2 linked regions of the Homo sapiens genome follow. The protein of the gene in region 1 interacts with the protein of each later gene in a pairwise test. Each region holds a gene or a part of one and is shown in the gene's direction. Other genes may lie near its edges. The genes, in order: SLC35B4 and EBAG9.

The links.
Region 2: the proteins of SLC35B4 (region 1) and EBAG9 interact in binary tests that used the Homo sapiens proteins (3 or more experiments, as listed by UniProt).

What each region holds. Positions count from the first base shown.
Region 1 is NC_000007.14:134,288,755-134,293,157, reverse strand, and holds the end of SLC35B4 (nucleotide sugar transporter SLC35B4), read left to right. Parts: 3' UTR 1-3,826; downstream 3,827-4,403. UniProt on the Homo sapiens protein: Antiporter that transports nucleotide sugars across the endoplasmic reticulum (ER) membrane in exchange for another nucleotide sugar.
Region 2 is NC_000008.11:109,549,978-109,557,281, forward strand, and holds part of EBAG9 (receptor-binding cancer antigen expressed on SiSo cells), read left to right. Parts: intron 1-832; 5' UTR 833-847; coding exon 848-930; intron 931-3,887; coding exon 3,888-3,966; intron 3,967-4,751; coding exon 4,752-4,910; intron 4,911-6,957; coding exon 6,958-7,065; intron 7,066-7,304. UniProt on the Homo sapiens protein: May participate in suppression of cell proliferation and induces apoptotic cell death through activation of interleukin-1-beta converting enzyme (ICE)-like proteases.

The sequences.
Region 1 (4,403 bases):
GTGTGTGTGTATGTATGTGTGTGTGTGTGGTGCACACATTGTGTTCTTAAACTGAGACGTGGCTCTGCAGGTCTCCTGGGCTCATTCCATGGTGTGGTATGTTTATTCCACTGTCCAGAGCTATTCTCTGATGGATTTGAGCAACAGCAGTGGAGATAAATGTCCTAGAGTCACCAGGTCGCTTGGAGAAGTCATTTAAGCTGCCTCGGGTTTTTGTTACTTAAAATGTGGATATTATTTCTCCACCTAAATCACTGAGTTTACAGAGTAATAATGTGTTGCTCTGGACATTGACAGCTTTCTAGAGCCAGTAATGGGCTCTTCTGAAGGATGCTGAATTAGAAGTGAACCTATTCATAGGATCAAAAGCCACTTGCTTTGAAATATGTAGAGTTCCTCAGAATTGACGGTGCTAGAAATATCCAAGTGTTAAATAACCTTTTAAAAGCAACAAAAGCTACTTTTTTCTTACCACTTAATAGAAGAACCTGTCCCTAGAGGCGACTTCATTGCTATGGATCTGGAGTCTCTGAACTCTTAATAGGATGCAGCCTCACATACATAATGTCACCCATTTTATGTTGATGAAAACATTACAAGTTTTCTTCATTGGGTATGTGTTGATGTTCACAGACAGTACTTGGGCCCATTAGGTTTTCGCGTCTGGTCTTAGAGCATGTGTATTCATCTCAGCGTGAATACCTCAGCCAGTCTTATGAATAGGAGGCTATGTATGGGCAGGGAATAGATTAGATTAGAACACTCGCACAAGATGACCACATATAGAAGCAGAAAGCCCCAAATTCCCTGGGAACTGTTTTTTCTCTAGTAGCTGAATATAAGGAAATATGTCTAATGGACACCAGTTAATACTTTTTAAAACTACTCTTTAAAAAAAAAATACGTTCCCCTTGGTTAACTGATTTTTTAATCCAGGGTGGACATTTTTTCAACCTTTATTAAAAAGACAAATAAACTATTTTGTAGAAGATCAGACTCCTACTTAACTGGAAGAGAAATGTCTATTAAATGTCTCTCCTCTTTCTCTGGGTCAAGACCATGTAATTTTATGCTTCAGAGATGAAGATACTGTTTGTTTACAAAGAGTTTAGTTTTTAAGACATCCAAAACTCTATGCTAGAGCAAAAATCAAATAGCAAAGGACACTAGCCAGAAAATACAGTGTGTGTGTGTGCACCTGTGTGCCTGCTGAACAACTTGACAGTGTAACAGATAAGGTAACTGAAGATGGTGGATATTTGAATTGTATTAGCTTAATGTCTACATATCTTTGGCCAAAACTCTATTGTCATATTAGAAACATGTTATCTTTTTCATGTTTATTAGTAATTTATTTTTGATTCTTTGTTTTCTTTTTCGTCCAACTAAAACAACTGTAATGTACTTGATACATTTATATCAAGTTCTAAAGTATTTAGACAAATCCAAATACTTTGTTTTTAGTTTTTTCCTCCTTTCCATCCTGTTAACCACAGTGAAACGCTGCAGTATTTTGATTTGGTCAGTGCTACGGAGGAAGACCATGAAAGCTGAATTGGTCTGTGCCACCCAGAGTAAACCTCTTCTCTTCTTCTGGAAAGATGGCGTGATGTTTTTCAAGGATTCTAATAAATATCCCGCAGTCATCTCCTGAGCAGCTTTCCTCTGTTTCACTTCAGAACTCCTTCCCCCACTTTCTTCACTCCAGTTTCTTCACTTGCAGCGTTTTCTGCTAAGAAAGACTTATCATCTTGTATCTGTTTATGCCTCTCTTCTTTGGGGCCCCTGGATGTTTTTGTGGATTTTTACAGAGTATTTATATCTGCACAGCGTGTATTTTGTTATACATTCTTACAAGCATTGATATTGGGGGGTACATTCATAATAGTGAGAATATCTGGCAGAATGTGTGAATGCCATATCTGTAGATGACGATGAATGTGAAGGGTTAATGTAGAAATGTTTGTTTATTCTGTTACAGCTCAAAATGGAGGCTGAGAATCTCTACCACCATTCCCTTCTCTATTTGAGAATCTCTACCACCATTCCCTTCTCTATTTGGGAAACAATACTCTCTTATTTTGCTATTTTTACCTTCCCATTAACTGGCTTCACTCAACAGTGCCAGATACCTATGGAGAGGGGAAGTAAAACACCTTAGGTCAGGAATAATAAACCAATGAGTTAGCTCAGGGCCGGTGGACATGTTCACTGGTGGACCAGTTGGCATTGACCTAAACGGACAGAGAAATGCACATGGAGGAGAACTACGTTGAAATCAAGATCCTATGTCTGTTGTATTTTCTCTTTGCCTGGAGTAAATAGCATTATAAGTCATTCCACCCTTATTAGATAACCAAAGCATATTGGTCTCAATAGCTTTCTCCTGAAAAATGTGATTGAATCTTACCTGTAGCAGTTCACTCTTAAGGTTGAAAGAACTGTCAATATAGATAAAATCCATTCCTTATTATTATTGATTGGTGTGACATTTGAAAATGTGTCTAAACAATATTTGTAAGTAAAAGAACCAGTCATAAGCCTCAAATGTGTTCAGTGTGTACCAAGCTGGAATGGGAGACTGGCCCCTCTTGGCTTTAAAGTAGCATGTTGTCTTTTTCTAGCAGCTTCTTCCTAGTAGACATTCCAGGGATGGGAGGGGCCAGGGATCATGTCTTACTCATTTCTGTATCGCCAGCCCCTGGCATAGTGTCTGGCTTATGTTATGTGAATAAATGAATGCTTGCCAAGATCTCTTCTTCCCTCAAGTTTCTGGAAAACCTGAGGGTTCGTGATACCTGTTCCCACTCCTCATCAGCGGGTTGGCAAGAAAGCAAATAAGGGGAAACATTTTTAACATTCCAAGCAAGAGAAGGAAGAACGACTATTGGGAGGAGGTACACCAGAGATTGCTCAGTGTGCAGCCTGCTACCTCACTTTTGGCTCTGGATTGCCTGGTGGTAGAAGGGAAGAGTATTATGTAGTTAGCACCTTACATATTTGATGCTCAGGAAGAAAGTGCAAGAAGATCCCTAATAGAACATTAAAGATTCTTAAAAGTTTTTGAAGTAGGCTGCTTGGGGTGACCAGCCCCACCCTTACATCTCCATAGTTGGTACAGTTAGCTTGTAGCAGCTGAAGCTGATGCCTGGAGATCACTGTCTGTTGGTCTGATCTCAGTATCATACTGAGACACCTCCCCTGAGCCTTACCTACTTAAATTGGTAACCGTCCTACCAAAATTTGTCAATTTTAATCAAGTGAGGCAAGTTGCAAGGGAGCCAGAGATACGTGAAAAAAGAAAAGCAGAAATACTGATACTTTCTAAGAAAGAAGTTGTAATAATTTCTTTGGCACATTGACTTACTGATATCTTTTGAAATGCATAGATGACTCTTGTGAACCAAAGAGAGCAGTAGTGGTTATTCCCCGGCGCAATAAAAATGCCTTTGTGTATCACTTGCGATTGCCAGTCATTTCTGTGCCAGTTGCTTTCATTCCAGAGAATGGCCTCATTCTCCAAAAAAAGATGATGATTTTAGAAGTAGGATTTCCTAACAAATTATGTGGTGGGGAGGGACGGCGGGGATTTTATTCATCCCGTCTGAGCTCTTCATACAGTATTACCATTAGGTTTTAAGAACAAAGATGGGGGAGGAGGGAGTAGAAAGCTGAGAGTACGTAGAACAGCTACAAGACATTAGTGGGTATTCAGATTTTGAGCTGTGTAAATATCAAACATCGGCTTCCAGCCTTAAGAGTTATTTGAGCAGAGAGTTAAGGAGGAATGGGAGATTTTGTGAATAAAATGTTTTGCCAAACTGAATGAGTCTTTTTGCCATTATTTCTTATAGAGAGCTATTTTTTACCTTCTGAAACAACTCATCAGACATCTGGGGTTTATCTTGAATTGTACCATCATTGTTTCTTAATAAAAGTGATAAATTTCTTGCAGGTGTTTCCAATCACCATTACCTTTGAAGTGCCTGTGTGCAGTTTCAAAAGCTCTCCAATTTTTACCTTGTATAGTGGTGGTGGCATATTTTACTACAAACGATTGTCAGCAATCTCTCTTCCTAATGCCTCGCAGCTGGATCAGTAATAAACCACTTCTCAGGCTGGTTTCTGCGCCAGAAATTAGTTTACAGAGGATCAGCCTACTTTTGGAAGTTTTAGAGGTTTGTGGCAGTACATTCTATAGCAAATCTCTCAAAACCTCTTTGCCTTGATAGAAATACACTGACTTTTGTCAGCTGCAGTGACCAGCTCTCTTTGTCTTTGATATGTTGCTTTTAAATAAACCTCAGCTGGAAAGTAACTCTTCAAAGCAGTTTACCTCACCCAGCCTACTTTTAATCATGTTATGCAGTAGCCCCCAGGTACAGAACACAAAAAGAAAAACA
Region 2 (7,304 bases), on another chromosome or scaffold:
GGAGTGGGGCGGTCTTTCTTTCTTATTCAATCTAACAATCTCTGCTTTTCAATTGGAATGCTATACAATTTGCATTTAATGAGATTATTGATATGGTTAGATTTACGTCTGTCATCTTATTTGTTTTTGGCTTGTCCCATGTGTTATTTGTTCTCTTTTCTTTGTTTCCTGCTGCCTTTTCAATTGAGTAGTTTTTATCTCCCTGCTTGTCTTATTGGTTATGACCAGTCCTTGCCCCTCAGAATATATGATTTAATGGACTTACTAGAGGTACTCCTAGGTATTGGCATTTCTTTAATAGATTCCCAGATTTGTGAACCACTGGACTAAATGAGCTCCATGGTAACTTTCAATTTACTAGCTATGTGACTTTGGTCAAGTTATTTGACCTCTCTTAATTCAATTTCCTCATCTATAAAATGGATATAAGGAAATATATTCATCTGCAAGTTAAAAATATTTAAAGTATTTTAAATAGTATTATGTTCATGTGGTTCAAACTTTAAAAGGTACACAGAGATTTAATATATTCTATTTTATACTTTTTTATTTTTTGAATTGTAGATTTTTGTATTAATAGATTTAGGTAAAATTATTTTCAAAAACTCAGAATGAAGGGTTTTATCCTTACAACCATTGAAAACTCGAAAACCTGGTTTTTGACTTGTTAATATGATTTAAATTATAATTTTAAAATTTACTGTGTTATAGTTTCTAGAGAAAGGTAAAAAATATCTTAGATTTTTCTTAGTGCATAATAGGTCTTTTCAGGACAGGAGTATGACTTTTGAAATCAATTTAATGCATTTTTTGTTTTGTGCCTCTTCCACAGGTTTTGATTCCCACCATGGCCATCACCCAGTTTCGGTTATTTAAATTTTGTACCTGCCTAGCAACAGTATTCTCATTCCTAAAGAGATTAATATGCAGGTAAATAAGTTTTATGTTCAAACTAACCTGTTTATCTCCTCGCTGGTTTTGGATACCTTCAAAACTTCAAATTTCGTGGACAGGACAGGTTATATTTAAGCTGAATATCTTGATTGCAGTATTTATTCATTAATTCCTAGTCATTTTTAGATACTTTTTCTCTACTTCAGATCTAGAAAATAGAGGTTCAGTTGTTTTGTTCATTCAAATTCTTACACTTTCCACTAAAATAACATGCTTAATACTATTTAGGAATAGACAGACCAACTTTCATTATTATAATCATCACAGAACTTTGATGTATTCGTTTCATTATGGGAATGTTTTAAAGTGGTTAGGTGAAATTCGGAATAGGTATTTCTGTCTATACTACAATAGTGTTGTTTTTATATTTAAAAAAAAATCCTAAGAAAAATCCTAAAAAAAAAAAATTTTTTTTTCTGTTTGAGTAACATTCTAGAATATGCAGGAAGTCAAGAGCAGGTAAGTCATTTGCTTTAGGACATCATCTGTAGACTTCAGTTCCTTCTGTTTTGTCACACGATCATACCCAAGAGCTATGATGTCTAAAATGTGTGCTGAGGCACCTCAGGGCTTTACATGAAATTCACAGGGATGCCATAGAATATTTTAAATTTTGCAGTGAAACATAGTGATAGCATCTGTTGAATACCTCAACTCAAAGTAGTTCACATTTGCAACATTAAATCCTGCAGTATTTTTTTATGATGGTGTTCTTTAATGTTTGAGATAAGTTTTTGTTTACTTATATTTTTGGTGACATCTCATTGCAAAGCCAGGATTTTAGGTTGTAATTAAAAGCGAGTACTGCACCAAAATTAATGTAGAACTGAAAACAAGAATGATGGTCTCCAGTCTTATTCTAAGGCATAAGAAGCTGTGCAGTGTTCAACAGGCACACAAATTTCATTAATAAGTTCAGTGATTGTGGTTATTTAAGAATAAAATAAAAATATTACTTTTTCTTTAAATGTGTATTTTTTACAATGGCTACTAAGCAGTTAGGATATACTTAAGTTTTTTGGGTGTAACTACCTTATTCAGTGGAATTGTTAGGTGTTTCTGTGGCCTAAGGGTACTGTGAAAAAGTTACTTACATACTAAGAGGAGGGTATAGTAAAAGAGGAAATGGACAGCAATCAGCTCTTTTTTTAATATATATAGACATGACTTAGAGGTTACACACAACAATTTTTGCACTGCCTGCTTTCCAGAGCTTAGTCATATGGCCCCCTAGCTGCAAGGAAGGATAGGAACTGCAGTCTCTGGCTATATGACCATTTGATAGCTGCTAAATTGAACTTATTGCTAAAAGTAGAGTGGTCTGGGATTTAAAAAAAAAAAAAAAATCCAGGGTATTGCAAGAGAACAAGTGGGTGAAATGATCATCTCTGGATGATCACTGGGGCAGAAGTGAAGAAAGAAATGGAAAATTTAGGTGGTTGACTTGAAATCACCCAAGAGGATAGGATTTGGGAAGTAGAAAAAGGAGCAAACTAAGTGTTCAAATTACCAGAGAATGAGGAAGAGAATGGCCAGAAATTCACCAGGTAAAGCAACATTAAAAATGGGTATTAATTGCCAGAAGGCAGGAAGTTAAAAGAAGCATTGTGTTAACAGTGGTGATGAAATGTAGATGTTTTCTTCTTATACTTCTATTTTTTAAAATTTTCATTAAATATAGATTACTTCTAGGATAAGAAATTTTCTTGATGTAAAAATATTAAGGACATTCCTATTGGCACTATAAATTTCTGTTGTAAATGTATACATATTTAGAATTGATTGTATGTTCAGTTTTAAAGAAAACTGACCATATGTTAGGATAAGCTTCTCTTTGGTGTCTGAAGGAACCTTAGACCATGTATTTTAAAATACCAGACTTGGCTAGGCATGGTAGCTCATGCCTGTAATCCCAATGCTTTGGGAGGCCGAGGGGGTAGGATAGCTTGAGGCCAGGAGTTCAAGACCAGCCTGGGCAACACAGCAGGACCCCATCTCTATGGAAAGGAAAAACACGCTTGTATCATAAATTTCATAAAGGACTATATTACTTTTCTATTCACCCTTTAAACAAATATAGCTTTGAATCTGTAATAAAAATAGCTGACTTTATCGTTCTTAGTTCTTAGTTGATGCTTTTTTTTTTTATAGATTATTTGAAGTGAAGTAAATGACTAATTATCTCTATTACCTGCCATTTTTTGTATGTTGTGCTATGTAGCAGGCACACACTGTCTAGGGTTTTTAAATATGTCACTTAATTAAATCCAAACAACCCTGCAAAAGTGGGTTTGAATACCTGCATTTTATAGATGAGGCTGTTGAGGCTGAAAAGTAGGTAATTCTAACTAGACATAATAGAAGTAACATTGAAAACTGTGGTTTACACAGATTCCACAGCCCATGTTCTTAACAACTGAGTTATAGTACGTCCTGTTGAATGTGGTACTTTTCCTACTAATCCTTAAAAGTAAGTTACCATTTGGTTCAAACTAGTGATTTTTAAACTTCTTAATAGTTAATCTTATCAAGAAACCCCATGTGTAAAACATAAAAGCCAAGCCACCCTGTTTAAAACAGCAAAGGTGGCCCAGAACTTCACCCACAGAACCCACAGCACTCCAAGGAGCATGCTCTGAAACCGTCTTGCATTTTTATTTTTGACTTTATATTCCTCTTGAGTTTGTTTATAATTCTGAGTCCTAAGCCAAAAAGCAGTTATGTTGTTCTGTCCAAGATTTAAAAAACATTCACAGGATGTCTGATTTATGACTTTTTTTTACCATAAATTAGTGAGTAACTGTTACTAAAATCAATAATCATAAAATTGAGAAAGATCTTGTTTTATAAGCCTTCAATTACCATACATAATAGTGCTTTTACTTTGCTTGTTTTGGTGGTTCTTGAAATAAATTATTTCATTTTTGTTTCAGATCTGGCAGAGGACGGAAATTAAGTGGAGACCAAATAACTTTGCCAACTACAGTTGATTATTCATCAGTTCCTAAGCAGGTAGGTTTTTTTTGTGTGTTCTTTTGTTTTGTTTTGTTTTGAAAGATTGAATAAGTGTCCTAGAACAATATTTTAAAAACTGGATTGCAGATCATTAATAGAAATTAATTTTTGTTGTGTTGTTAAATTTATCTGGTCTGAAAATTCTATTTGGTTCTACATTTTATCTTCTGTTTCTTTGTTGACATTTTCTATTGTGTTTTCATTGGTTTCAAGTGTTTGCTATTGTTTGTTGGAGCATTTTTATAATAGCTATTTTAAAGCCTTAGAGAATTCCAACATATCATTTTGGTGTTGGTATCTGTTGATTAACTTGCCTTGCAAATTTAGATGTATTGTTTTTATATGCTGAATAATTCTGGGTTGTTTCATGAACATTTTGAATACTATGTTTTGAGACTTCATCTTATTTAAATCCTGTGGAGAAGCTTGGTATTTTTTATCAGATGATCAATCTGGATAGGCTTGGGTGAAAATGTCCAGCCCTTCTGTGAGTTGTAGTTTTAATGTCAGTTCAGTTTTCAGAGCATTTGCTTTCGTTTTACTTTGTTTTTTGTTTTTTGATGGACATAATAGAATAAAATAGAACAGAATATATCAGAATGTCTTGTATTTTTTGAACTTTTGATCAAGTTTTGATCTGTGATATGAAATGTATGTTTTCCCGTGGGTTAAAAAAGTTTGAAAACCAGTGTTTTAGAAAGCCCATTTTTCTAATAAATCATCAATGATGTGTTCATTAAGTTGCCCCTTTGTGGCTGATAATGTTGATCAATTAAATTTAGACAGATGTTGAAGAGTGGACTTCCTGGGATGAAGATGCACCCACCAGTGTAAAGATCGAAGGAGGGAATGGGAATGTGGCAACACAACAAAATTCTTTGGAACAACTGGAACCTGACTATTTTAAGGACATGACACCAACTATTAGGAAAACTCAGAAAGTATGTTAAGATTTATGCTTTTGGAGATTAAACTACTTTTTAGATTCCTATAGTTAAAATTAGGTGATACAATTCACATTTATTAGAAAGCCTATTTCTTTTTTTTTTTTTAATACTTTAAGTTTTAGGGTACATGTGCACAACATGCAGGTTAGTTACATATGTATACATGTGCCATGTTGGTGTGCTGCACCCATCAACTCGTCATTTAACATTAGGTATGTCCCTAATGCTATCCCTCCCCTCTCCCCCAACCCCACAACAGGCCCCAGTGTATGATGTTCCCCTTCCTATGTCCATGTGTTCTCATTGTTCAGTTCCCACCTATGAGTGACAACATGCAGTGTTTGGTTTTTTGTCCTTGCGATAGTTTGCTGAGAATGATGGTTTCCATCTTCATCCATGTCCCTATGGAGGACATGAACTCATCCTTTTTTATGGCTGCATAGTATTCTATGGTGTATATGTGCCACATTTTCTTAATCCAGTCTATCAGCATATTTCTAATTATCAGTTGTTTGTTTTCTGTCATGTTAAGTAAGAATTTTATATGTTCAAATGACCTAGACATAGTTCTAGTAAGTTGTACCCCAAGTCTTTTAAAATTATATTTATATATGTATCGAAATCCTACTATATGTCAGATTCTAGACTCCAGTCTCTGCCATGGAGACTAAGGTGAATTGGATAAGAGTTCTAACAAGTTTGTACTTCAGTAATATCTACAAACTGATAGGTAGAGTTTATTGTTTGTAACCATTATAAAACTGATGCAGGACTCTAAGAACTTAAGAGTAATTGTGAGTTTGTGTTAGTCATCCATACATTATTTAATCCCTTTTGAATTGAATATGGAAGATCATTTAGAGATGCAGGGAATTACTGGAAAAAACAGAATGCTTGAGTATTTTCGTTTTTATTTATCAAAATAGTACATGTACTTTTTTTAAATCAAAAACTGTAGAAGAACTTATAATGAAAAGTGAGACTTCTGACCCATCACTCTTAGCCAGTTCTTCCAAGAAACAGCCACTCAATAATTTTCTGTTTGGATTTCTTCAAGTGTTTGTCATCGTATCTATCTATATGGTTATATTGCCATTTCTTGTTTACCAGTAACAGACATTGTCCACTGACATTCATACTATGGTAAATGAAGATTTATTTCTTACTACCATTCCCTCTCCTTTATTCCAGTCTACCTCACTAATCACTCTGCTATATCAGAAAAACACACTTAAAGTTCACTTTCTTATTCAAACATAGAAAATATTTTTATCATATATATATATAAACACACACACATACACACTTCATAAAAATTAGGACATTATTTCACATTTTCTAATACAGTTGTTCCTCACCTTCTTTCTCTCAGCTGATTTCAGCTATACATTTATATTTACATTGTCTAGGTTGATAACATTTACATTCTTTGTTGTTGAGTTGTCCAAATGTCTCAATGCTAAAACACATTAAATTGTGTATTTTTAAAGGATCCTTTAAGTGAGTTTCTTAATAGATGAATACCTTGCATTGTGGAAGTATACTGCTGCTCTCAGTAGGAACCTAGTATATTGCTATAGTGCCTTATTAAATTAGTTAGAATGGAAATGCTTTAAATGAGGCTACCAACATATCATATAAGTGTATTTTGATGCTACTGGCCTGAATGAGTTAATGTATTCATAGGTATCTCACATGCTGAGAGAGTTGTTAATACTATTGGCAGGATATGATACCTGTTGTTATTTAATACAGTAACTAAAAGTGATTGATTATATTTTGAGGTCTGGGGAAAGTAGGATAGAAAGAAAGAAAATGGGCCTGTATTAATTTTTAAAAGTGAAATACAATTTTTCTTAGTATGTAACTGATTTGTACAACAATTCCCTGGGAAATTGGTATTTACAGACTTTTTTTTTAGTTTTTACATTATAAATTTTAAGAAGAAATATTTTAAGTAATTAGAAAATGTTTTGGTTGTCTATTTTTATGTAGTGATTTGTAAAAGATCCCTATAATTCTTTTTCAATTAATCTTTCAGATTGTTATTAAGAAGAGAGAACCATTGAATTTTGGCATCCCAGATGGGAGCACAGGTTTCTCTAGTAGATTAGCAGCTACACAAGATCTGCCTTTTATTCATCAGTCTGTAAGTATGTTAATGGTTCTAGGGAAGGGTTTTGTTGTATTTCTGTTTTCTTTAAAGCAGAGGAATAAAATCTAAATGAGTTTAACATAGTATTTATATTTTTGTAACTTTGAAACAGGTTTAGCAGTTTGATAGAAGTTAATCTGGAGTTTTACCAATCCTAACCTTTTATGAGATTGTAAATTACCTTAGATACTAAGATCAAGGTCTCATTGTACACATGAAAGATAGAGATACAA